Linked DNA regions of Homo sapiens. The protein of the gene in region 1 purifies or fractionates together with the protein of each later gene. This does not show direct contact. Each region holds a gene or a part of one and is shown on either strand. Other genes may lie near its edges.

Region 1 (7,036 bases):
TTCATTGATTTACAAACTGTACAATATTTACAAAGTTTAGGCATTAATCCCATATTGACATGAATGCTGTGGAGAGTCTAAAAATAAATATGTGGCACATAGCTTAATATACACATCATGGCTCTTTACACTTAAGCCATTACCAATATTGAGATGTAATGGAGAATTTAATGTGGTAGAAAAGTCAGAGTGGCTGACCAGTCCCGGACCTTCCATGTGAATGACTCTTCCTTGGCTCCTTGAGGCTGGGGATAGTGAGCAAATAACTTTCTTTCAAGAGAATTAAACACTGCCATTCTGACAGGCACATGGGACACATGCAGCAACATCTATGCAGAGTCTGCAAGCACTCCCTGGGTGGTGGTTGAATCTGCACCACTGTGGACCTGATCCCTCTACACCAGCCAGGGAGGCTTTGGTGTGGTCACTTTCTTGTTTCTTATTCAATCACATGCAGTACTTGGAAGATGTCAGTGGAGTGTAATCATGCACAAAAATGGTACTTGTAGGTATGTACAACATCAAACTTTCATTGTCTTATAGCATCTTTAGATGCAACATCAACTATCTCCTCTTTTAGCAAGAGGGATGAATGAGGAAGCCAAACCCCTACTCCCCAAAGAAAAAACATCACCTGGGGACACATGCAAATAGCATCCTGCAACAGCAGGGTGAGATAAACTCCACATGATAAGATGGATGAATTCCTATGAAGTCAGGCCTGAAAGTCTTCCTAGGGGGATAATCCCACCTTTCTTTCCTCTTCAATCCCACATCATCCCACATAACCTAAATCTGAAGGAAACAGCTTCACAACATTGCGTTTGAGCTTTGGTACCTTCATTTGGGAAGTGTAAATGCTAGTAACATTCTTTATAGGATTCTTGCAGGGATTAATCCTAACTTATGTAAAGTGCTTAGCATAGTGCCTGGCACATACGAGGTGCTTAATAAATGTCTTGCTTTCTCTCCCTCTACTTTCCCACCCCAATTAAAAGCAACATACTGATAAGCCTAACAAACTCTGAATTAAGGCCATTTGATGCAATTTAGATTATTCTGTATCAGAGTTACTGCTGTCAGTTCATATTTAGTCCCTGAGGGAGTCTCATTTTATGAGCCAGAGACATTTTTCTATGGAGGGCAGATGGACCCTGACAACACTGTCCTCTTTATTAGCCATGGTTCTACCAAGTTTCACAAAAACACATCTGAAAACCCTGCACACAAACTTAGACCAGTGATGGTCACCACCTGAATAATTCCAGGACACCATCACTGAGGAAACCATGGAAAAATCCTTGAGACAAACATATTGCTCTTGCCTACATGTTAACTTTTTTCAACACTGGTGCAAGTATTATAGATAACTTTCAATAAACATATATTAAAAGCTCTACCACTGTTGAAAAATATGTATTCTAATTTGATCACTTTGTTCAGAATAATGAATTTTTTAGAATATATTTTAGTTTCTAGTTATGCCTTACAAAAATAAATACTGTTTAAATTATTTACAAGGAAGAAGAAAAATTGTAACTTGGGGTACAAAAAATACAAGAAGGATGACAAAAATTTTACCATCTACTTCAAAAGCAATATCTAAAAGAAAGAAAAACTTCCCATTGAGTCTCCTTGTTAGTCTTGCAATCACCTCACTGGTCTACTTTCTCCTCATCATCGCATATTATGCCTTGCTTCCCCATCATTCGAAAGACAATTTAATGCAGAATCTTCTCCATAAAGTCACTGGGGATTTGGAAGTGGGAGCTCTTTGGCAGTATGAACTGCAGATGGAGTAAGAAGCTGGCTGAGCCACTTAGTCGGCCCTCAGAATGAACTAGGACTAATCTCCACACATTTTTCCTTTCATTCTGAAATCCTCTGTCTAGATTATCTATGGCTGAATAGAACCCCATATCTGGGGAAAACAACTCCATCCTGGTTTGGGGCTCTGGACACAATTGACTCAGGTGGAATCTAGGATCTCATGAAGCATAATTAGGTGCCAAGTCAAGGAGAAGGCTGATCTCACCAATTATATGAAGGGATAACAGCCACTTTATGGACAGTGGCTCCATTAAGTTGAGGAAAATCCTCCTCCAGGCACCCCCACAAATATAACAAACTTTTATGATTGCCTTTTTGTCTTCTGCACAGAACAGAGGAAATGTGATTCCCAGCACTGGGAGAAGAATGTTGGGAAAATTAATTGAACAAATGGCTGGAATTGTTGGAATTACTACTCTTCCAGGGACTCAGTCAGAATTTCCAAGGAAATAGTCCATTCAGTTTGGAGTCAATGTTTTAAAATTCTAAAGCTACAAATGAACTCATGATTATATTTAAACCAATGGTTACTTTTCTCCTGAAAAGCCCACATCTATACATGCCCCTATAACATACTCCTAATATCTTACAGTCTCAGGACCTACTGCATCTCATGCATGTATTCTTCCAAATTAAGAACCCCAGATCTCGATAAATGCAGAACTACTTCTTGGAATGAAAACAAACGTTTATGGTATGGAACTTGGGCTGTACTGACAGAAGGCTTTGATGAGTCTCGGTTAGACTCAAAATGGCTACAATGAAGCAACATTTATTCCTCATGGTAAGTGGCAATGCTTGGCTGTGATGACCTCCAAGAGTGTTGTGTCTCACATGTGTAATTACTGTCAGGCCAATGACTCATGCAGGTCTGTGGACCATCGAGATCCCCATGGATCGCTATTAACACATGGAGCCACTGAGCCACTATAACATGAGCCCTAACCACAACCACAAGCAGGACACTATCACTGACATACAGCGTGGGTGCCCATTTGTCTGATTTATAGGTGACGTCGTGGCAAATGTGGCATCAGTTTCATTTCGGGGCAGTGGCAAGTTACAGATATTTCCTTCACAACAAGAAGTGCAGACCTGAAAGAAAGGAAGAAAAAAAGATAATGAGAAGCCAGCATGTCTTGGAAGGAGGCAGGGTTTTTGAAGGCACTGTCGCCCACATGGCAAGATGCAAGTAAAAATTACCTAATCTATAAAGGAGATGCCAACTCTACGTTCAGGAAGGCTGGGGATAATATTTCTTCTAGAAGCAATCTGGTCAACATGAAAACTCCCCAGGCCAAACTTCAAGAGAGCTAGGTTTTGTTTTTGACACCCTCCACCCATACGATTCTTACAAAGGTGTATAGCCTTCCTGGGCCTCAGTTCTTTCGCCCTTAAAATGGGAATAAAGAAACTCGTCCGTGTTTTTCCATGAGGCTCTTTCTGACTACTTGAGGAAGAGAGGGTAAGCCTTCGTTTGCCAAGTTTTCAAGTGAGAGTCAAGTGGCAACAACCCGGGTGGTTTAAACTTGAGTACTGACTTTCACAGAACTGTTTGCATAAGTGTCTCCATTCTCATTGGGTGAGTTAATGTTTGAAGGGTTTTCATTCATGCAGTTACTCCTGCTTTACACCACCTTACTCGTGGATCATTAGAAAGAAATAAACCCACAGAGTTAGTGACAAAAACTTTCTTGGGGCATGGCTACACAAAGTACAGACCAGCAGCTCCAACATCAGCTGGGAGTTTGTTACAAGTGCAGAATCTCAAACCTTGCCCCAGACAAAGAATTAGGACTACATTTTAACAAGATTCCCAGGTGATTCCTAGTCATAGGATGGTTATTAATAACATTCTATACAGTCATTTTCCTGCAGGGATTTGAGTCTTTAGTCACAGTGACACGTGCCAGGAAGTCAGTATAATGTTGCGGAGGTAGACTCCAAACCAGAGGTGAGTTGGAATTCTGTGCCTGTCACTTACCAGCTGTGTGACCGAGCATATGACCCAATTTCTCTAATCCTTAACTTTCTCCTTGGTAAAGAGGCCACAGTAACTCCTCAGAATCAAGTCCAATTTGCTGGAGAGGTCAGGGAAAGCCTTTGGTTTTACTCATTTTGAACCAGGAGCAGAATAGGCAGATTATATTTAAAATTTTAATTATTAGTGTATTCAAGAGGTTGCTTGAAAATTAGGTGTCTGCCTTCTTAAGAAACAGTGCTGTTCCCAGGTATTGAGAATGGACATTGCCCAAACCACCAGGAAGGCCACCTGCAGAAGTGTTCAGCTGCTAAATAAAGGCCAAAGTATGCTATGTTAAGGTCACACGTATAGACAGCATATAGACATGTATAGACACACGTATAGAGGGCAAGGCTGCCTTTCTGTGATTGTCCATATGCCCCTTCAAGGCTGCCTCCCAAGCTCATTTTACACTGAGTGCTTCTGTACATAGGCACCATGTGTTTCCGTATACAGGCTTCTACAGGTACCAGGTGAAGCTTAAGCGAACACACAAGATGGGTCTCCATCACCTATCAAATGACTCAAGAGCCAATGGAGACCCTCCCCAAACTAACATCCCAGTCACAACATGAGCCCTACTTTACAGAAAGTTATCAAAGCTGAATTGCGTCGGTCCTCCTGTGATGAATGAACTGGGTACATCTGCAAAGCTTCACTGTGATGGACATAACTGGTCTCTTGCTCCTCTTTTTTCTGGTAGCTTTATTACTTTCCTCTGAGTGAAGAAAGTTATTACAATAACACTGAACACCCTCTTCATGTGTGTTTACACAATTTATATCAGTTGTCCTATGCTCTGGTATAAATGTGTATTCTTTTAGAGTAAACAGGAAAGGAAGCGTCTTTTCATAGAGCATAAAGACAATCAAAAGACAGCCTTCACGGGGGAGTAAGAATCTGCTCATGAGTACTGGCAGATGTCTGAAGAGAAGGCAGCTGGCTATGTAGTACTGGTCACTTGCTCTGTTGCCCAGACCTTGTGGCCTTCATGCTCGGAGTCTCTGCAGCCAGTGGATAAGCACTCTTCCAGTGGGACACAGCGTTTGGTGACTGAGATACTGTTTCCTGTGACTTCCATTGTGTGCTGAGTGTAGCAGTATCTGGTCTCTGTCAACAGAGAAAATATATTTGAGATGGGAAATGTTGACCAAACCTGCCTAAAAGGAAAATAACAGGAGTGTCAGCATTATCATTCCAGAAAAGAGCTAATAGCACATAAGATGTGCACTGCTTTGAGTTTATGTCCAACCCCAAAGACCTCTTTGGAGAGCTCCACTTTGCCATGGTAGGAGGACAACCTTCAAAGAATATTGATTTCTCTGCCCAGCATTATTCCCATAAACCAAGACACAATGGTTTCTCCTTGCCTTTCAACAAATTTTGCCACTGGACTGATTTTTATTTTTAGGGGATGAGTGGTTTTGCGGGGATGATTTAAGAGGTATAAGTCATAGCAATTTTAAGGAAGATGAAAGGACAAAGAGGTTCAAAGAACTCAGGGTTAAAATGAGTTAGGCAGGTAACAGTAGTCCTCAAGGAGATAAAACACTACAGCAGTGGCTGGTGTGTGTGTGTGTGTGTGTGTGTGTGTGTGTGTGTGTGTGTGTGTGTGTGTGTGTTGGGGGGAAGCAGCTATTCACAAGAGCAGAACAATTTAAAACTTTGTGCCAATGAGCATAGCTGGGTCCAGGGTGCATTACAGACGAAGACTGAAACAATAATGAACATTTTTCCAAAATTGAGGAGCTTCGTTTCTCCCTAGCATGATTTCAGTGTCTTCCTAGGACAACAGATGAAGACCATGATGGGAGTTTCCAGAGGTCCCTCTATGTCTAATGAATCTGAAAGCTTGAGATCTCTTCCAAAATTCTTTGGGGGAACTTTTAATGTGTAATTTAAAAACTAAAGAAAAATGGCTTTGTCAATGTAATTCTTTATGGCCTCCAGGCAATGTTCAGCTCTCTAAGTCTGGGATTTAGGAGAATGTTCTTGCTCTACTTTCACATTAAAAAAGAAAATGAATAATTCTTAAGAAATGTCACCGAGCTGTTTTTCATCCACATCTTGGATCCAACTTTGCATGCTTTATACATTTCAGATATTTAGTGGCTAATATGGAATTATGACCTTCTATGAGATTATTTATTAGGCAATACAAATTCCTCCCCTCTCCCCCACCAGATTCTGTCATGATTTTGGCAGCTTTTAACTGAAGAACTAATGTCCAAAGAAGAAAGCGTAAGAAAATTTTAGGTCTTGAGAATGAGCTAATACAGACCCTTCAACACATCCTGGAAGTCATCAAAACTCAGGGGTTTTAACAGTCTTCCTAGAGACCCTCACCTGACAGGAATCCCAAATGGTCTCCAATTAAGTCGTACTAAGAGCTGCCACTTTCCCAGTGGTGATGCTATTGGCAGGTGTGCCTGGGCAGAGTCTGTGGCAACACCCTCCCCTAAATGCTGTCCCACACTGCATCCCGGCTGGAATTGTTAGTTGGATTGGGCTGAAGCTTGCTCCAAGGTTGCCCAGGGTCCTATGGAGCTCTTTGGGAGTAGGGTAAGGTCATCTGGGGAGCTCACAATAAGAATAGTTGAAAGTTTTCTACCTGGCAATAATTATCCCAAAGCCCTAAACTATCTTAACATTGGAGTGATTGCTTTTCTGTTGAAGAAGAGGCAGCAGCTCTCCTCTTTTTTAAGCCTTAACAGGTTTTGACAAATGGAGGCCAGTGGCCTGGGAGATTTACCACATCTTCTAAGAGGACTGGTTTACTTCTTTGGTATCAGACTCGATGGACGTTTATGGTCACAATAGGTTCATCTTTCCCACCCCCACCCCAACTTCAAATGTTCTAGAAAGCAATAAAATCAGGAATGTTCTTATCTCCTGTCTCCTCTTCATGCAGACAGCTAAGAGCAGCTGCCAGAGGTTTTACTGCTCCAAATGTAAATCCGAGCAGATAAGATCATAGGCTTATGGAATGAGTAAATCACTACATAGCTGCAGTTTTGGAAATCAGCCTTTTCCCCCAAGTAGTGAATTATCCTGTTTTAAGTAAGCCTTAAAATAACAATTGGTGAACTTGATATGACTACTTCTTTGTTCATACTTTTCTATCTTTAACAAAATATCTTATACATAATGGAGAGCGTATTCCATTGAATGACAGTAGACGCA
Region 2 (7,424 bases), on another chromosome or scaffold:
TAACTTGAGAGGTCTGGAAGGGAGATGGCAAATGAGAGAGAAAATTACAGAGAGGAGAGCCAGACAGGGCATCTTCCTCATGTTATGTTGGACACTTGGAGAAGAAAGTATTGGACAATGAGCATGGGAAAAGAAGGGGGTGGTCTCTCCTTATCCCATGCCCTTTAGTAAACAGAAAACTTTATAGCAGATGGGATTAGAGATGGGAGACAGACCCAGGCCGGTCCACATACACTTCATGAGAGACTAAGCAGGTAGCAAAACTCTACAATCACATTTTCACAAAGCAGAGACACACACACACAAAGGACTAGAAGGAAAGCTCCCAAATTACCTCTCAGCGGTGAGATTTCAGAGGGTTTTTTCCTATTGTTGGTCTTGGTTTTCTATTTTTTTCTACAGTAAATATGCATGACATTTGTAATAAACACAATGGTATACATATATGTACATACAAAGAGAAAAGGTGAGGTCCCCAGCATGTCAGTCTAGTGCTCATCCCTGGAGACCTGGAGAGGTCCCCCACATCAAGGGGATCAGGCTACTGGGAGGGCTGGATTTCAGAAACCTGCCCTGTTATTATTATTATTATTATTATTATTATTGCTATACTATTAAAGCAATAACAGGCTGGGCAAGGTGGCTTATGCTTATAATCCCAGCTCTTGGGAGGCCGAGGCAGGAGGATTGCTTTAGCCCAGGAATTCAAGCAATGGGCAACACAGGGAGACCCTATCTCTAACCCAAAATACAAAAATTAGCCAGGCATGGTGGTGTGTGCCTGTAATCTCCGCTACTCCAGAAGTTGAGGCTGCAGTGAGCTGTGATCACACCACTGCACTCCAGCCTGGCCGACAGATCAAGACCCTGTCTCAAAAAATAATAATAATAATAAAACAATAATAGCCTTAGAAAGCCCCTTCTCACAGCAGCTCTGTGAGGGAGTGTTGAACCAAGACATGATTATTATCTCCATTTTACAAATGAATATGCAGAGACCAGAAGAGGTTAGGAGGCTGTTTCAATCTGCACAGCTGCTTCCTGACTTACTTTCGGAGGTCAAAGCAGGGCACGCAGCCCCAGGTCTTGAGATTCCAAATCATGAGGTGTTTTTTTGCCCAGGCTGGAGTGCAATGGCGCGATCTGGGCTCACTGCAACCTCCGCCTCCCGGGTTCAAGCGGTTCTCCTGCCTCAGCCTCCCAAGTAGCTGGAATTACAGGCGCCTGCCACCATGCCCAGCTAATTTTTATTTTTTATTTTTTGTATTTTTAGTATAGACGGGGTTTCACCAGGTTGGCCAGGATGGTCTCAATCTCTTGACCTCGTGATCCGCCTGCCTTGGCCTCCCAAAGTGCTGGGATTACAGACGTGAGCCACCACGCCCAGCCATGAGGTGTTTTTGTTTTGTTTTGTTTTGTTTTTTGAGACCAAGTCTTACTCTGTTGTTCAGGCTGGAGTGCAGTGGCACCATCCTGGCTCACTGTAACCTCCACTTCCCAGGTTCAAGCGATTCTCGTGCCTCAGCCTCTGGAGTAGCTGGCACTACAGGCGCCCGCCACCACGTCTGGCTAATTTTTGTATTTTTAGTAGAGACGGAGTTTCACCATATTGGCCAGGCTGGTCTCGAACTCCTGACCTCAAGTGATCCATCTGCCTCAGCCTCCCAAAGTGCTGGGATTACAGGCGTGAACCACCGCGCCCAGCCCCAAATCATGAGTTCTTTCTGGTCTGTGAGAAAGCATGGCTGATGGATCTTATTCCATGGCTTTGACCTCGGCATTACCCTTGCTGTCCTGCACACCACAGCGGGTGCCACAATATCCCACAAACTACCGAGCCCCCACTCCAGAGGCACAGCGGCCCCCCTCAGCCCGCGCAGGTGCAGAATGTGGGCCTCAAAGTCAAAAGCTTATTCACGCCTTAAGTGCATACCAGTTGCTTCTTGTGCCGCGTCCTACCCTCTCGGTTTGAAAACCACCCAAGCTGGCAGGAGAACGTGGATAGGATTGTGTTTTTGTGGTTTTTAAAACCACATTATTTTTAGGAGACAAGGCAGAAACAGCCCTAACCTAATGATTAAAAAGAAAAGAATCCCACAGATAAGAACACCTCGACCCCACAAAGAACCACATTAAAACCCCTTTTTTCTTTCACATACATAATTACTGGCGGGGAGGGGGTGGTACAGGATGCCTCTGGTTTCCTCGGTAGAGGTTGACTGAATTCTGAAGAAATCATTTCGCAGCTCTGAGTCCACGACAGACCACGCACCCCCTCCTCCGTGCCTCGGGATTATTTAGATCGCAGAGCTCCCGAACTTTTGACCGCTACTTTTCAAAGAAACAAGTTCCCTTGTGTTTTGAAGTTCAGGCAACTTGCGTTTTATTGGCCGGAATCAGCTCCCAGAGAAGGCACCCCCGGATGCAAATGCAGCCTGGACCTGGTAGAGCCCCGTTAGGGGCAAAGGTCCCAGCTCTCCGGTGTCTCCTGGCGCAGGAGGCTGGAGCCGCCGGCCTCTCCGAGCCAACATGCGCCCGGGCGCGTACCAGCCGTTCCCGCAGTGCCCCGCGGGGCCCCCAGTCGGGTGGTGCGGAGCGGAAAGCGGCCGGGACGCAGGCAGAGGAGCTGGGGTGCCCGCCCGGCTCCTGGCACGATGCTCCCCGGAGCCCGCCGGCGGACAGCTCGCTCGGTCCCCAAAGCCCGCCAAAGTCACCCGCGGAGGCAGAAATCACCAGGTCCCCAGCCCGCCGGTACCGGCCTGCCACTGAGGCCACCTTACTCACCGCGGGGCCAGCCAGGACCAAGAGCGCCCGCAGCTCTTCTCGGAAGGCGGACAGCCGCAAGCAGCGCGACCCACGGACCTCAAGGGTGGCCTCCGGGCCTCCGCGCACTGGCGCGGGCTCCTCAGGAGCTTCCATGTGACTCGCGCGCTGCGGCCGGGTAGCGCGGAGGCCGGCAGTGGGTACCGCGGAGGCCGGCAGTGAGTACCGCGCAGGCCGGCAGTGGGTACCGCGCAGTGCAGCCTGCTCTGCAGTCCCCGCCCCGGCCGCCCGCCCAGAGCCCGCCCCGCGCCTGGCGCCCGGGGGCCCGACTGAGCGCGCAGCCAGGCAGCCTGCGACCTTGGGCGCGCCCCTTGCACCTCTCTCTGCACCACTGCGGACGCCTGCGGGTCTTGCAAAGACCAAGGAACTCCTGCACTTGGAAGGCAAAGTTTGAAAAAGCTCTGTAAACTAACGGAACGCGCTCCGGGGGCTGGGTCCTCCACGTCTCGGACGCCAGGACTCACCCCGGCTCTCCACCTCCGCTGGGGGTTTCAGGTTCTGAATGACCTGGCGTGGAAGGACCCAGAGGCCTCGAGCCGTGACTCGGTTAGCACCCCGCGGGGTGTGTGGGGTTGGGCGCATTTGCTGTGCAGATTGAGTTGGGTACACCCTTTGATGCTGGTTAGGGTGTTGCATACTCCTCTCCTCTCATCAGTTGTTCCATTAGAGAACTTAGAATCTACCAGGATAGAGCAACATGCTCCCATTTGCCAAGTAGCACAGTTTGTGCCAGCTGGTCGTGTTGGAAGTTTATCCATCAAGCCTGCTGTGGGAGTACGAGAGGCTGCGGCCCAGAAGGGCAGGAGCAGCGCGCTTTCCTCCCAGAGCCTCAGCTTCCTCATCTGCAAACGTGAAAGAACACTCGTCGCCAGCTGTGAAGACTGGGGTTGCCTGGGCGGAGGACCGGAGTCAGTGCCACCTGCCCTCAGCCTGGCACCAGCCGTTACCTAATAAGTGTCAGTTACCAGGACAAGATTGATTTCTCTAATAGTCAAAATTCCTTCCGTTGTAATGATCCAATGTAAGTAGAGAAAATGGAAAACAAATTTTTTGGCTCACATAATCAGGAAGTTTGGATTCAGGGATTTGAAAACAAGGTCATTAGGCCAGGCGCGGTGGCTCACGCCTGTAATCCCAGCACTTTGGGAGGCCTAGGCGGGCGGATCACAAGGTCAAGAGATCGAGACCATCCTGGCCAACATGGTGAAACACCGTCTGTACCGAAAATTAGCTGTGCATGGTGGCGCGCGCCATAATCCCAGCTACTAGGGAGGCTGAGGCAGGAGAATTGCTTGAACCCGGGAGGCAGAGGTTGCAGTGAGCCGAGATCTCGCCACTGCACTCCAGCCTGGTGGCAGAGGGAGACTCCACTCAAAAAAAAAAAAAAAACAAAACCAGATCATTCTTGTTGTCCCTCTTCCCATCTCTGTCCCTCTCCTCCCTTCTCCTCGCCCCTTGGGATTCTTTCCGTAGTTTCTCTTCCTCCTCTGCCGGCAGCCTTTCTCTTCCTGTGCAAGTGACAGTGGTGGCCTCTGATACCCTCGTTCCTATCTTTCCCGTCTGTTAAACCAGAAAGTAAGGCCCTCCCCTCCTCTCTTCTGGTTCCAAACTAACAAACAAAAAACTGGGAGAAAATCTGGTTGGCCCTGCTTAGGTTTCTTGCCCACCTCTGGAACAATCGCCCTGGGTGGGAAAATAGGGTCTGATGTTTGGCTGGCCCTGGACCATGCACCCAGCTTTGAACCTACAGGGTTAGGGTTAGGTGCCCTGTGACTGGTCTCGTCCCACAAGGACTGTACATATGGAGTAGCGCAGTTTCCCAAAAGAACTGAGAGTGTCAACAGACAAATACCCGAGGATATTCACTAGATCTCTGATCACTGCTGTTTTTTGATAATTTTCTGGAAGTCCTGACTGATGTAATAAGACAGGAAATGGAAATGTAATGTATAATGTTAGGAAAGAAAAGGCAAAGGGATTACTCACAGTAGAAATTGACAGACCGGGCCAGGCACAGTGGCTCATGCCTATAATCCCAACACTTTGGAAGGCCGAGGTGGGAGGATCACTGGAACCCAGGAGTTTTGAGACCAGCCTGGGCAACACAGTGAGACCCCATCTCTTAAAAAAAATCCACACAACCCAAAGAAATAAAATATGAACAAAAGCTAATAGAATTGATAAAGGGGTTTAATAAAGTTGCTACATAGAAGTTCTTCAACAAGTCATATCAGTCCTTTATATTGGTAATAACATATATGAAAATACTAAAAGAAATCTTTCACAATAGCAACAAAAAACAAAAGGTCCTCGTGATACAGAGCATAACTCCTCACTCCTTAAAGGTGGATTGTACACAGTGACTTCCTTCCAAAAAGTAGCACAGGAAAATTAATTTTCAATTAATATATTAGGTTTTAGTCCACTACTGTGTATTCCATTATTTTAAAATTTAATAGAATGATTCTAAAAGCAATTGATAGTGTAAACAGGAAAAGATATAACAAAAACTCTGAAAAAGAAAAGTAAGGAGGAAAGAAGTAGCTCTATTGGCTGGTAAATAGCTTTTAAAACAACGTGTGGTTGGCTGAGCACATTGTACAGGTGAGTAGCCCACACCTGTAGCCCCAGCACTTTGGGAGGCTGAGGTGACAGGATCGACTGAGCCCCGCAGTTTGAGGCTGCAGTGAGCTATGATTGCACTACAGCACTCCAGCCTGGGCAGCAGAGTGAGACCCTATCTCAATAAAAAACAAAAAACAAAACAATTAAAAGAACAAAGAACCCTGTTACTTGGAAAGTGTTAGGATTTTGATTGACATTGCATTATATCTGCAGATTTATTCAGAAAGAATGCACCTCGTTAAAATTCTGTCTTCTATTTCAATCATATCCCTAGTCTAATCAGTACTCATCTAGGGAATGGGAGACTCACTGGACTAGGGATATGATGAATTTGTTATTGATGCTTGATAAATAGTCATAAGTATGTTCATATACGGTTCTTAACTTGCTGAAATATATTATTAAAAGCATGTATTAAAATTGAATTTTATCAGGGTTTTTTTTTTTTCTTTTCGGGGGGACAGGGTCTCTCTCTGTCGCCTGGACTGGAATGCAATGGTTTGATCTCGGCTCAAAGCAGCTTCGACCTCCCTGGCTCAAGCAATTCTCCCACCTTAGCCTCCTGAAGAGCTGGGACTACAGGCATGTGCCACCACACCCGGCTAATTTTGTTTTCTTGTTCCTTTTTTTTTTTTTTTTTTTTTTTGAGACAGAGTTTCACTCTTGTTGTCCAGGCTGGAGTGCAATTGTGCGATCTTGGCTCACCGCAACCTCTGCCTCCTGGGTTCAAGCAACTCACCTGCCTCAGCCTCCCGAGTAGCTGGGATTACAGGCATGTGCCACCACACCCGACTAATTTTGAATTTTTTTTTTTTTAGTAGAGTTGGGGTTTCTCCTTGTTGGTCAGGCTGGTCTCAACCTCAGGTAATCCACCTGCCTTGGCCTCCCAAAGTGCTGGGATTACAGGCATGAGGCACCATGCCCAGCCTATTTTCATATTTTTTATAGAGACAAAGAGGTCTCACTATATTGCCTAGGCTGGTCTCAAACTCCTGAGCTCAAAGTGATCCTCCTGCCTTGGCCTCCAAGAGTGCTGGGATTACAGGCATGAGCCACTGTGCTCTATATATATATATATATATTTAGTATTAATTGAAATAATCAAATTTTTCTTCTCTTTTCGGTTGTTAGTGTAAGTTCATTGTAGATTTCCTAATGTTTAGCTGTCACTGATTCCTGGAATAAACTTCCCTTATTCATAATAGTATACTATAACAGGTATATAGTGGTAGATTTATTGCTAATATTATATTCAGGATTTTTATATTTATTTATTTTTATACAGACAGGGGTCTCACTATGTTGCCCAGGCTGGTCTTGAAATCCTAGGCTCAAGCAGTCCTCCTGCCTTGGCCTCCCAAAGTGCTGGGATTACAGGCGTGAGCTGCTGCGCCTGGCTTCCGTGAATCTTTAGGCTCTGTAATTATTCAAATACCATAAGAATGATCTGTTTCTTGAAGGTTTGAAGGCCACTCACCTAGAGGACCATCTGATGCCTTTATAGAAGGGGTATTTTATTTAAAAATAAGAAAAAAAATAAAAGGTTTTCTGTTTATTTAGAAGTTGCTGGTCTATTCAGGGTTTTGTTTAACCTCTTCTTGAATTAATTTTGGTCATTCATGATAAGTGTTTATTGATTGCTGCTGTAACAAATTACCACAAATTTAATAGCTTATGATAACACAAAGTTACTATTTAACAGAGGTCAGAAGCCTGAAATGGGTTCCGTGAGGCTGAAATCAAGGTGTCAGCAGAGCTGCGTTCTTGCTAGGGCTCAGGAAGAATCCATTCCCTTGCCTGTTCCTGCTTCTAGATGCCGCCTCCCTCTTCCTCCATCTCCAAAGCACATCACTGCAGCCTCTGTTCTTTCATCACGTCTCCTTTTTCCAGCTTTTACTCTCTTGTCTTCCTCTCAGAAAAAGAGATTCCATTAGGCCCACCCGATAACCCAGGATAACCTTTGCATCTTAAGATCC
Region 3 (7,036 bases), on another chromosome or scaffold:
GAGTTGAGGCAGCCTAACAGACATAGGGTACACAGAAAGAGGGGAAGCTTTGGAGAGGAAACTGATTAATTTCATTATGGACATCTTCAGTTACAGATGCCTATGAGAAATACCCAGGAAATAAATCAAGAAGGTATCCCCTCCAAACCTGGAAGGTTGTAGGGATTGAATGAATTATTAGTAGGGCCACCAAATTTAGCAAATACAAGTACAGGATGCCGAGATGAACTTGAGACAAATAGCTCTATCTGCCATATTTTTTGTAATTTACTGAAAAAAGCAGAATATAGGACATTTGGGGTGTTCTAAGAAACCCAATACAGGAGGCAGGACAAAAATGTTAAATATAGGACACGCCCTATATGCACAAAAAGCCTGGCAATCCTACTTCTTAGGGTGTTTCCATCATGAAATTCTATCCATAACTATAAGCAGTACTTTCAGCTAGTGCTAGTAGATCTAATTAACCAGATCACATCAATTAAATTAACCAGAGTGTTTGCTGGGAAATTCCTATGTCCTATACTGTGTTACTTGAAAATAAAATTCTTAAAAAAAAAAAAAGCCATCCTCCTAAAATCTGTACCCATGTATAGCTAAAAACTAAAGTCCTAAGAATAAATGAAACCTGAATTACCAAAAACAAAAATAGAATCAAGAGAAATGGAAGGATCTCAGTGTTGCCCAATATTTTTACAAGAGTTTATTTAGAAGAAAGAGGTTTAAAAAAAAAAAAAGGTATGTTTTAGGTGGTGGTAGTAGGGACATACATGGCATTAGGAAAACCCTGGAGAATACTTAGAAGGGGCTGGCTGAGCACGGTGGCTCCAGCACTCTGGGAGGCCGAGGTGGGCGGATCATGAGGTCAGGAGATCAAGACCATCCTGGCTAACATGGTGAAACCCCATCTCTACTAAAAATACAAAAATTTAGCGGGCATGGTGGCATGCTCCTGCAATCCCAGCTACTCGGGAGGCTGAGGAAGGAGAATCACTTGAATCCGGGAGGCAGAGGTTGCAGTGAGCTGAGATTGCACCACTGCACTCCAGCCTGGGCGACAGAGTGAGACTCTGTCTCAAAAAAAAAAAAAAAATTAGAAGGGGCTGAAGAAAAGGCAGTAAAAGAAGAAAACCAAAAGCTAGGAGAGTTAAATGTGAAGAAAACTAAACAAAAGGAAAAACTTCAAGTACAATAAGATCAGATGATAAACTAATGCTTTTACTCCTCATTTCCCTCTCTTTAACACTAATTCATCATAATCTCCACTACTGTGCTCCTCAACATTGCCCACCAACTCTCACAAACAGAGAATAAACAGGTTCTTTTGCACTCCAACCAGGTTGGTGACTCACATTTTTCAGAGGACAGTGCTGACGTGCATACCATTCTTGAGAATAAAAGCAGAGTAAGACTCCATTGCCCAAGAAAAGAGAAGTCCACATCAGAACATTCCAAATCGGCTTTTTCCGACTATCATTGACAATGAAGTTGAAAGCCACTAAAAATAGGAAGGCAACAAAGAAATATACAGTTATCAGAGGTCAGAAGTTCGAGACCAGCCTGGCCAACATGGTGAAACCCCATCTCTATTAAAAATACAAAAATTAGCCAGGCGTGGTGGTGTGTGCCTGTAATCCCAGCCACTCGGGAGGCTGAGGCAGGAGAATCACTTGAAGCAGGGAGGCAGAGGTTGCAGTGAGCTGAGATCATACCACTGCTCTCCAGCCTGGGTCACAGGAGTGAAACTCTGTCTCAAAAAAAAAAAAAAAAAAAAAAAAAAAAAAAAAAAAAAAGAAAGAAATATACAGGTATCAAAACATAATTTATCAGAAGATGAGGGACCTCAGGTATCTGCTGTTATTTAATAATCACAGTGAGCAACAACTGTTTATATATTTTTTTATTCTGGTCACTGTTTCTATAAAGAAAAATAAAGCTTCAGTGTTAAAATCAGTAACTTACAAGAAATCAGTGTTTTCAGAACATGTGTATATATATTTCATGGAATTAGAATATTCATATTCCAACTTTTCCCTCTCTACTCACTCAAAAACTTGTCAGTTTTCTAGGGGGTGCATACCGACAATGTTTACGAATGGGAAAGCTGTTTATATAGATAACTTTTATGACCTATCAAATCAGTGTTATCAATGGTCTTCATGAGGTTACCTAGTTCATTTCCCTACTTCAAAGTGTAAATATCTTGAGACAGAGCTGTGTATAATTATTCAAAGTCAATATTCTGACCATCTGATAAAGAAGTACTACCTTAAAATGTTACTACTACTATCTAGTTCTCCTACATTGATTTTATAGTTTCCTTTCTATCTGGTTTTCTTTTTTAGCATAGTACCCAGTACTCACAGCATACCAAGATACTTACTTCCAAAGAACATGAAGAGCACGAAGAGCACGGGATAGAAAAAGCTCAAGCAAACAGCCAAGGCATATTCGTGTACTACAGCAGATACAGCAAAGACAGCTAACATGGCAGCAGATTTGAATCTCTTGGAGAAAAACTAAAGAAAAAGGAAAACACTACAAAGTAATTTTTAAAAATTTAAAGCAAGCATGGATTATATAGGATGTAAAATTATATGCCAAAGGCACCTATTGTATTTGTACTTAATTTTCTAAGTCTACTCCTTGGATTAATCCAAGTCTATTAAAATAACTACAAATCATATACACTTACAAACTCTTATTATTGTTCAAATATCTGAGTCTATTTTCAAAAATATCAATAACTTATGTTTGTAAGTTATTACAACTGACAAAACATAGTTTTCCTATATAAATGAAACATATTGAATTTCAGTCTTTAGAGTAACACTGTATGGTAGATGGGGCAACTGTCCTCTCCATTTTTACACATAACAAAACTAAGATTTCAGAAGGAGAAAAGGGACTTGCCTTATCCGTATGTGAAACTACACTTGAATGACAGAATTAGCACTCAAATATTAATACAATGCTATTTCCACCATAAGATGCTGTCACTAAGCCAAATGGTGCCCTCACTTAATAAAAACTGTAATCTAGATACCTGTTTATCAACCAGGAGATTCAAGATTACATCTCATCAGTCTAAGTATATTCTGCTCTAAAGAATGTCTCAAAGCCAGGTGTCACTGATTGGAGAGATACAAAATCCACACAAAAGTGTTTCTCACAGAAAAGTGTTTCTCACCCGGGCACGGTGGCTCATGCTTGTAATCCCAGCACTTTGGGAGGCTGAGGCGGGCGGATCACCTAAGGTCGGGAGTTCAAGATGAGCCTGACCAACATGGAGAAACACCATCTCTACTAAAAATAGAAAATTAGCTGGGCGTGGTGGTGCATGCCTGTAATCCCAGCTACTTGGGAGGCTGAGGCAGGAGAATCGCTTGAACCCGGGAGGAGGAGGTTGCAGTGAGCCGACAACATGCCACTGCACTCCAGCCTGGGCAACAAGAGCGAAACTCTCTCAAAAAAAAAAAAAAAAAGTGTTTCTCTACCTTTAACCATGAAAAACGAATGAAAAAGACCAAAGGGAGATTATTTGTTGGCAACAAGACTCATAAGAAACTATCCATTATTGGTGGATCATTTCAACTCCAACAACCTCCATGCATTCTTACTTTGTTATGTAAGATAAAATTCAGAGCAAAAGACACAGTATTAGACCTACTAGTGTACACACAGTGGTTTCTAAGCAGTACCATTCAAAGCAGGTTTCTAGATGTAAATTTCTCAAAAGAAAACTGAAAAGATACTATCACCCTTTCCTCATGAGCAATTAAATATAACTTCTTCCAGCTGTATAATACTCATACTTTCTGAAAAAGAATCTCCATTTCATAAATAATATCAACTTAAACCTTGCTACTTACCCAGAGAAAGTCCTTGTAAGCATAGTAATATAGCCAGTCATGGACCACCACATTCCAGGTTCTATAATAGTTGGAGTATGACGTGGAGTTCCACCAATCCTGAGGGAAAAAGTAAAGGTATAAAACTACACACACACACACACACACACACACACACACACACACACACACACACACACACATCCCACCCGAAAGCAAACCCCCCTGACTTCCCAAAGAACATATGTAACAGAAAAATCAAATTATACTGTGATAAACTGTTGGTTCATACACTGGTGACAGAAAAATCTTCAAAGGCATTTTGGTTATTAGTGTTGAATATGACATGAATTCTCATACTATATATGATTTAGTTCCTAGGTTCATACGGAACACATAGAATCATTTAAATCTAATGTTCATCTAAACAGCAATCAGTAAGCCCCACCCCCCTTACCCTACTAGAATGTCATGAGAAAATTCTATGGTCATGAAGACCAGAGAGAGTGCTAACACTAGAGAGCTGTTTGGTGGTTACCATAAATGGCAAAATTATCCAGGGTGAGATGGTGGCTACCTCAAAGTCCTGGTATCCCTATATATGCTTCTTGCTCCCAATATTAAGATCAGATGAATGAAATCAGGTATCTAAAATCTGCAATCCACACTTAAAGTTTCTTTGAGAAAAAAGGTGGTAGACTTGGAGTGTTGCCAAAAACAACTCAAAGAGAGCTTTAGGTAGGGTTAAAGAATGCTATGAGCCATTCTGACTCTAATTCTATAGCTTAATTCCAACTTTAGAAGCATAAGGATACTATCTGAAGCAAAATTAACACCTTTCAAAACTAAAGAGGGAAAAGTTATTTCCCTCATGAACTGCTCAATTGTCTTAAATGGAATAATTTGCTGAGGTCATTCCTACAGAACTAGACGGTCCATTTCAAATGAATGAACACTCAGGGAAGTCTCATGGTGTGCTCTGAACAAACAGTTTCCTACTGGAATCACCAATATATCCTTGCAGGATCCAGCAGAAACCATGTGCTTATGTTAAGGGAGCAGATATTAGAGACAGAAGAAAACACAAGGTTATGCTAGTTATATCTGTAACCGAATTTCAGAAAATACTGGCAAAACTTGTAGAAAAGAAAATTATTTCACAATGTTTGTGTGAAAGGCTGGTGACATTAGCCAACAATGTCAAAATACTAATAATGAAGAAGTTAATAAAATGTAAAAAGAAAGCTAAGTCTAAGTATATACTACCTTATAGAACATCCTGTCACCAAAGCGTAACATCTCAGCAAAGGCATTGAGCCAGCAGTGCAAAAAGGCAAAAAAAGTAAGGAAGAGAATCAGCACACCTAAAAATAAGATTAACAATATTAACAGTCTTTCCAAATAGCTCACATACCAAGCAACTAATTATATCACATCATTTTATTTAGCTGGGATTATTTTGTAAAATATAAGTTATTATTCCAGTTTACCCATTCCAGAGATGATATACTTTTGGAGTTAATTATCTTAATTTTAAAACAGTAACTTCCTTCAAAGTGGGTTCAACAAATGACATTACCCAGTCTGGTTTTTTTTTTTCTTTTTTGAGACAGAGTCCTGCTCTGTCACCCAGGCTGGAGTGCAGTGGCGCGATCTCGGCTCACTGCAACCTCTGCCTCCAGGGTTCAAGCAATTCTCCTGCCTCAGCCTCCCAAGTAGCTGGAACTACAGGCATGTACCACCACATCTGGCTAATTTTTTGTATTTTTAGTAGAGACCGGGTTTCACCATGTTGGCCAGGCAGGTCTCAATCTCCTGACCTTGTGATCTGCCCACCTCAGCCTCCCGAAGTGCTAGGATTACAGGCGTGAGCCATCGCGCCCAGCCTACCCAGTCTGTTTTTAAGAAATGCCTAAATATATGGCTTAACTTAGTACCCAAGGTCCTTTAAAAATCTGGCCCCCATACCCCCCTCTTAAACAATTGTTTAAAACTGGGAGAGATTTTGCCCCCTCTCCCCCACAGGACATTTGAAATTCTAGAGACTTTTTGTTTTTAAAAGACAGGGTTTCACTATGTTGCCCAGGCTGAACTTCAACTCCTGGGGCTCAAGTGATCCTCCCACCTCAGCCTCCAGAATAGCTGGGACTACCGGTGCAAGCTACTGCACCAGTGCTGTGACAATTGGAGGAGAGGGAGTGGTGCCACTGGTATCTAGTTGTTAGAGGCCAGGATGCTGCTGAACAGTTTATGCTACAATGCAGAAGAATGCCACTCCAAACAAAGAATTAACCAGTCCAAAATGTTAATAGTGACATGGTTAACATAGTGACATGGATAACATTCTAAACATATCTCCAGTGATTCTACCCTCTAAGTGTTGTAAACATTATCCACAACTGGGTTTATGCCATTCCAGAATGCTCCATGCCCTTGCATCCATCCCACTACCTAGAATGACCTTTCCACCAATTCTCTGCCAGGCAAATACCTACCTATTTTTCAATACCCAATATTAAATGTTATCTCTAATGTGAAACAAAGGCCATAAGCATTTTGTTTATCCTACTTATGTAGTACATATTACAATATATTGTAAAATATCCATTTATATGTCCATCTCTTTCACTCATTTATTGAAAAATATATATTTATAGAGCATCAACTATGTACCAGACAATATGAGAGAGACTGTGATTGGCTATAAAACACAATCCTTGAACTCAATAACTTTGCAGCTAGTGAGGAAGACACTCAAGTATGTAACACATATTCTATTTTAGGGACAGATACAGAGTTCATTCAAATAAGTCCTGGGGCTGGTGAGGGAGGGTTACTGGAAGAGGAATGCAAGAGAAGAAAAGAAAGGGAAGGTGATGACAGAAAACATTACCAACATTCAATGAGTAAAGAAAAGAGGAAAAGTAAGGGAAACTATAAAAGCTCCCAGACTGTAAAGATAATACATCTCTTGTTCACTTCTGAGTCCTCTGCACCTGGCATAGTACTAGGTACTCATATATCTCTATAATAGACAAAAAAATGCAATAAATATATTTAAGAAATCAAGGTATGGTCGGAAAGACAGGAGGAAAATAAGAAATAGTGGCAAAAGGCCAAGCATGGTGGCTCAAGCCTGTAACCCCAGCACTTTGAGAGGCTGAGACAGGAGGATAACTTGAGCC
Region 4 (4,105 bases), on another chromosome or scaffold:
TTTGAGGAAATTTCTATTCAAAGAAAATTGCTTTAAATTGCCAGGTGACAATAGCAAAGACTTGGAACCAACCCAAATGTCCATCAATGATAGACTGGATTAAGAAAATGTGGCACATATACACCATGGAATACTATGCAGCCATAAAAAACGATGAGTTCATGTCCTTTGTAGGGACATGGATGAAGCTGGAAACCATCATTCTCAGCAAACTATCGCAAGAACAAAAAACCAAACACCGCATGTTTTCACTCATAGGTGGGAACTGAACAATGAGAACACTTGGACACAGGAAGGGGAACATCACACATTGGGGCCTGTCGTGGGGTAGGGGGAGGGAGGAGGAATAGCATTAGGAGATATACCTAATGTAAATGACAAGTTAATGGGTGCAACATACCAACATGGTGCATGTATACATATGTAACAAAACTGCATGTTGTGCACATGTACCCTAGAACTTAAAAGTATAACAAAAATAAAAAATAAAAAAAAATTGCCAGGTGAGTCAAATCTGCTTGAATTTCCAAACTTTTACCATCAATTATTGATTGTATTTTGACATGGGGAAGAGAAAAGTCCTGGTAGTAAAGTCACAAGAATTTTCTTTATTATAGCAAATACTTTCACGGCATTTGACAGAACTCAGAACTATTTACAAAGAAAGAAAGAAAAATCAAACAACCAAAAGATACATTTCATATAATAGGAAAATATAAAAATCGAAGCCAAGTGACAGAATGAAAAAGTTAGCTAAGCAATGGATTTGAAAAACTTCGATTCTAACTATCTGACTTGTTGCTAATTGTCCAAACATATAATAATTTAAGATGGTCTTTTGAGACTTCCTAGAAGTAAAAAGGAATTATTGAAAAAATGTTCAAATATTTCATAAATAAATACCAAAAATATTTATTTTCATTGTACTTTCCGACTTGCTTCAGTGAAGGTGTCCTTTTACAACACTCTGTTTCTTGTTTCAAATTCTCATCTGGAGATGTTACTTTCTTCCAGAGTGATACTCCCAGCTTACCACAATATTCCTGATTAAGAAAATGCTAGAGCTGTCCTACCTGAGGAAAAGAAGAGAGAACTGCAGAACAATCTGTAAAGTTCCTAGACAGTTCAATCAAGTTAAGGATGGTCCAACTGAGATATTTTGTTACTCCAGCACTTTTCAAGTGTTATTATGAAATCACAATTCTATCTCAGTGTGAGATTTCTTATATAAGTAGGAAGAATTTCATTTCTGTAAACATTTGCAGGGCCAGCTGTTTCTCTAAATAGATTTGTTTCTCCTTAAGAGAGCTGCTCCAGTGAAAAATCTTTTCTTACATTTCATGTCCAAACCCAGAGAGAAACCCAATGTTTTTCTGTGAAAAGACAGAAATACTCAAGTAATATAAAAGCTTCCTGTAATCAAGGAATTGCCTACCTATTACAAGCATGTAATCACTCATTGCAGATTCCTAAAGAATTAAAAATGTTCTTCAGTTACTCATAGTTCATCAGATGTACTGTTAGCCCTTGCTAATTCACATTCTTCACTGGTTTGACAACTCTGAAGGATGTCCTTGTAGTGGTTCTTCAGATCTTCATAAAATGAAACAGTTTCTTGTGAGTAAGCCAAAGGTAACACCTTTTCATTTAATAACATCTGCACTCGGAATTGTTCTTTAGGAGTCTTAGCATTTTCACAGTGGTAAAGCACAAATATCAGGTTCGAGGCATAAGGTACAATGAGACCACTTCGGAACTTCCGATGCATTTGTTTTTTGTAATTGTACGCTGTTAGGGGTTCCTTGTCTTTGAAGTAGCCCATGAGAGAAAGCAGTGGAAGAAGAGTCTCTGCATGACCAAACTGGAGGATGACTGGAGAAGAAATTGGCTGAGACCTTCAAATAGAAATTAAGAGAAAATAAGGTATATATATTAATGTCATAGAACATAGTATTTACACTTAGGAGTAACTTCCACATCTTTTTTTAGTTTAAATAATCCCATCTATTTTTTTAAATCTTTATATACATTACACAAGCATACGGCTGAAATTCCGTGTGGCAGAGAACTAAACTTTTTATACTGAAAGTTAAGTTCCGAAATTCAGATCACTGTACTGTTGTAAATCCATATAAGTGTGCATACATATTTTCCTTTAAGTTTAAAGAGAGAGAAGTGTCTTATAGATATGGGAACTTGAAACAGATGTGTATTTCAACACTGTATTGCCTTTCTGTGCATAAAACTGAGCAACCTGGCCCTTAGTAAATATTACTCCATGGAGCTCTTTTGAATAAAGTGTTATTATTTTATTTATATCTAGGGAATAAGAACAAGCAATATTCAGTAAATGTCTTACCAAGTCTGAACAGGATTACATGGTAATTCATGTAATCCTTAATGGTTTACAAAACCCAAAAAAGGTTAGTGATGTAACCTATTGTGGCTGAAACAATGTGTCTCTGGTTGGGAGTGGGAGTATAAAGTGCCAGGAATACAAACCACTTTCAACACTGAGCTGAATCAATTCTTTTTCTTGAAGTTTTCTATGATTTTTTTTTTCTGGTAAAGAATTTTTATTAAGAAGCAGTGAATGACTGCTTAGCCTTTTCCCTACCTTTATAGAAAAAATAATATTTTTCTTAAATATAATTTGTAAACCTATTCAAACATGACTGTCTGACTTTTTGCCACCACTCATCAGGTTATCAATTTAGTGCATCTGGATTTTCTGGGAGGATAGAAGCAGCAGTTCTAGACCTTCCTGATTCCCTCTGCCCCCAACACACACAAACACAGCAAGCAGATAGCAAATCCAAAAACCCATGGGAAACATTTACAACATAACTAGGTGGAAAAGTATTCTCTATGAACCACTCCAAGTAGCATCCAACCTCAAGCACTAGATATTATCAGTATCTGTTGAAGAAAGCAGAGAGAAGCCACAGAGCATCTGAGCAATCTGAGAACAAGAGAATCCCAAACAGCCCACAGGTATTCACTGGAAGCGCTGTGTGTGAACTGGATATAGCAGCTGAAATTGGGAAGTATTTAGTCCTCTCCAGGACTTGGTGAGTGCAAGGCAGGCCTACAGTGAGGCCCGGGGCTAGAGAATCCTGGAGCTCCTGTGAACTCTCCAAACACAGGGCTCACACTAGAGAAACTGCTGGGAGTGGAATTTCAGCCAAGCAGGAGAGGGACAGAAGAGATAAAGGAAAAAGTAAGTCTAGATGAAAGTGGGGGGAGGGGAACAGAGCCAGGAAATCTCAGAAAACAACCCATCATACTTCTGAACAGTACACACACCAGAACGGGGGGGCTCTGTGAGATGAGACAAGCAATCTGACACAAACCTTTTTCTAAATGTTCAGGAAAACAATTCATATCAAAATAACTACAGAAAAGCATGTAAGAAAAAATAAGGAGCAGAATAACTTCCATATATAAGAGTACGCTAGAAATATATACTCAAAAAGTACACTGAAACTGTTAACAGTATTTCAAAACAAACTAAAAGACAATTATTCACTACTTTCAGATTAATATTCTCTAAAAGGTGTAAAACTTAAAAGCCATTCATCAACAGGCGCTTACCAAGCCTCTCTTCATAACTGGTATACTTTAATTAGGTCATCTAAAATACCTAAAACCTGTATTTATTTCCAAGAAGCAATCTCTTAGGTCTGAAGTTACCAAGCGGTAGCATTCAGAACACAGCCATATTTAGTTTGACCAGCATAAGTATTTTTAAATTTTACATTACTTATCAGTATTTAAAAATTGAGAGGTTTAAGATTCTTAAAAATCCAGATTTTTGCTCTTCTTAGAAATCTGAAAGATCTGGCAACACAAGTCCATATATACCCGTAAGACCATAATCAGCTAAACAGGAATAAGGTTACCCACCCTGTAGAGAGGGCATATACTTGTTACACAGCACATGTATCATTCCACATTGTCTAACATAGGATGAATTCATTCCTTTGTTACTTGCCTGGCCCCTTTATACATCTGAGTATATTCAAGTCTAAACTAACACTACTGTCACCATCTAAATAATGAAATTTAATAAGGATACAAGTTAAAAGAAAAACAAGTAATATAA

What was found.
Region 2: the proteins of LYPD6 (region 1) and SLC47A1 purify together in Homo sapiens (affinity purification with mass spectrometry; 3 studies listed by BioGRID and IntAct, with this or other methods). This does not show direct contact.
Region 3: the proteins of LYPD6 (region 1) and SOAT1 purify together in Homo sapiens (affinity purification with mass spectrometry; 3 studies listed by BioGRID and IntAct, with this or other methods). This does not show direct contact.
Region 4: the proteins of LYPD6 (region 1) and MINPP1 purify together in Homo sapiens (affinity purification with mass spectrometry; 3 studies listed by BioGRID and IntAct, with this or other methods). This does not show direct contact.

Annotation. Positions count from the first base shown.
Region 1 is NC_000002.12:149,466,572-149,473,607, reverse strand, and holds part of LYPD6 (ly6/PLAUR domain-containing protein 6 precursor), read right to left. Parts: intron 4,964-7,036; coding exon 4,833-4,963; intron 2,926-4,832; coding exon 2,758-2,925; 3' UTR 1-2,757.
Region 2 is NC_000017.11:19,529,435-19,536,858, reverse strand, and holds the start of SLC47A1 (multidrug and toxin extrusion protein 1), read right to left. Parts: upstream 3,006-7,424; 5' UTR 2,920-3,005; coding exon 2,785-2,919; intron 1-2,784.
Region 3 is NC_000001.11:179,345,779-179,352,814, reverse strand, and holds part of SOAT1 (sterol O-acyltransferase 1), read right to left. Parts: intron 5,216-7,036; coding exon 5,118-5,215; intron 3,972-5,117; coding exon 3,873-3,971; intron 2,520-3,872; coding exon 2,384-2,519; intron 1,499-2,383; coding exon 1,353-1,498; intron 1-1,352.
Region 4 is NC_000010.11:87,549,872-87,553,976, reverse strand, and holds the end of MINPP1 (multiple inositol polyphosphate phosphatase 1 isoform 1 precursor), read right to left. Parts: intron 1,896-4,105; coding exon 1,499-1,895; 3' UTR 516-1,498; downstream 1-515. UniProt on the Homo sapiens protein: Multiple inositol polyphosphate phosphatase that hydrolyzes 1D-myo-inositol 1,3,4,5,6-pentakisphosphate (InsP5[2OH]) and 1D-myo-inositol hexakisphosphate (InsP6) to a range of less phosphorylated inositol phosphates.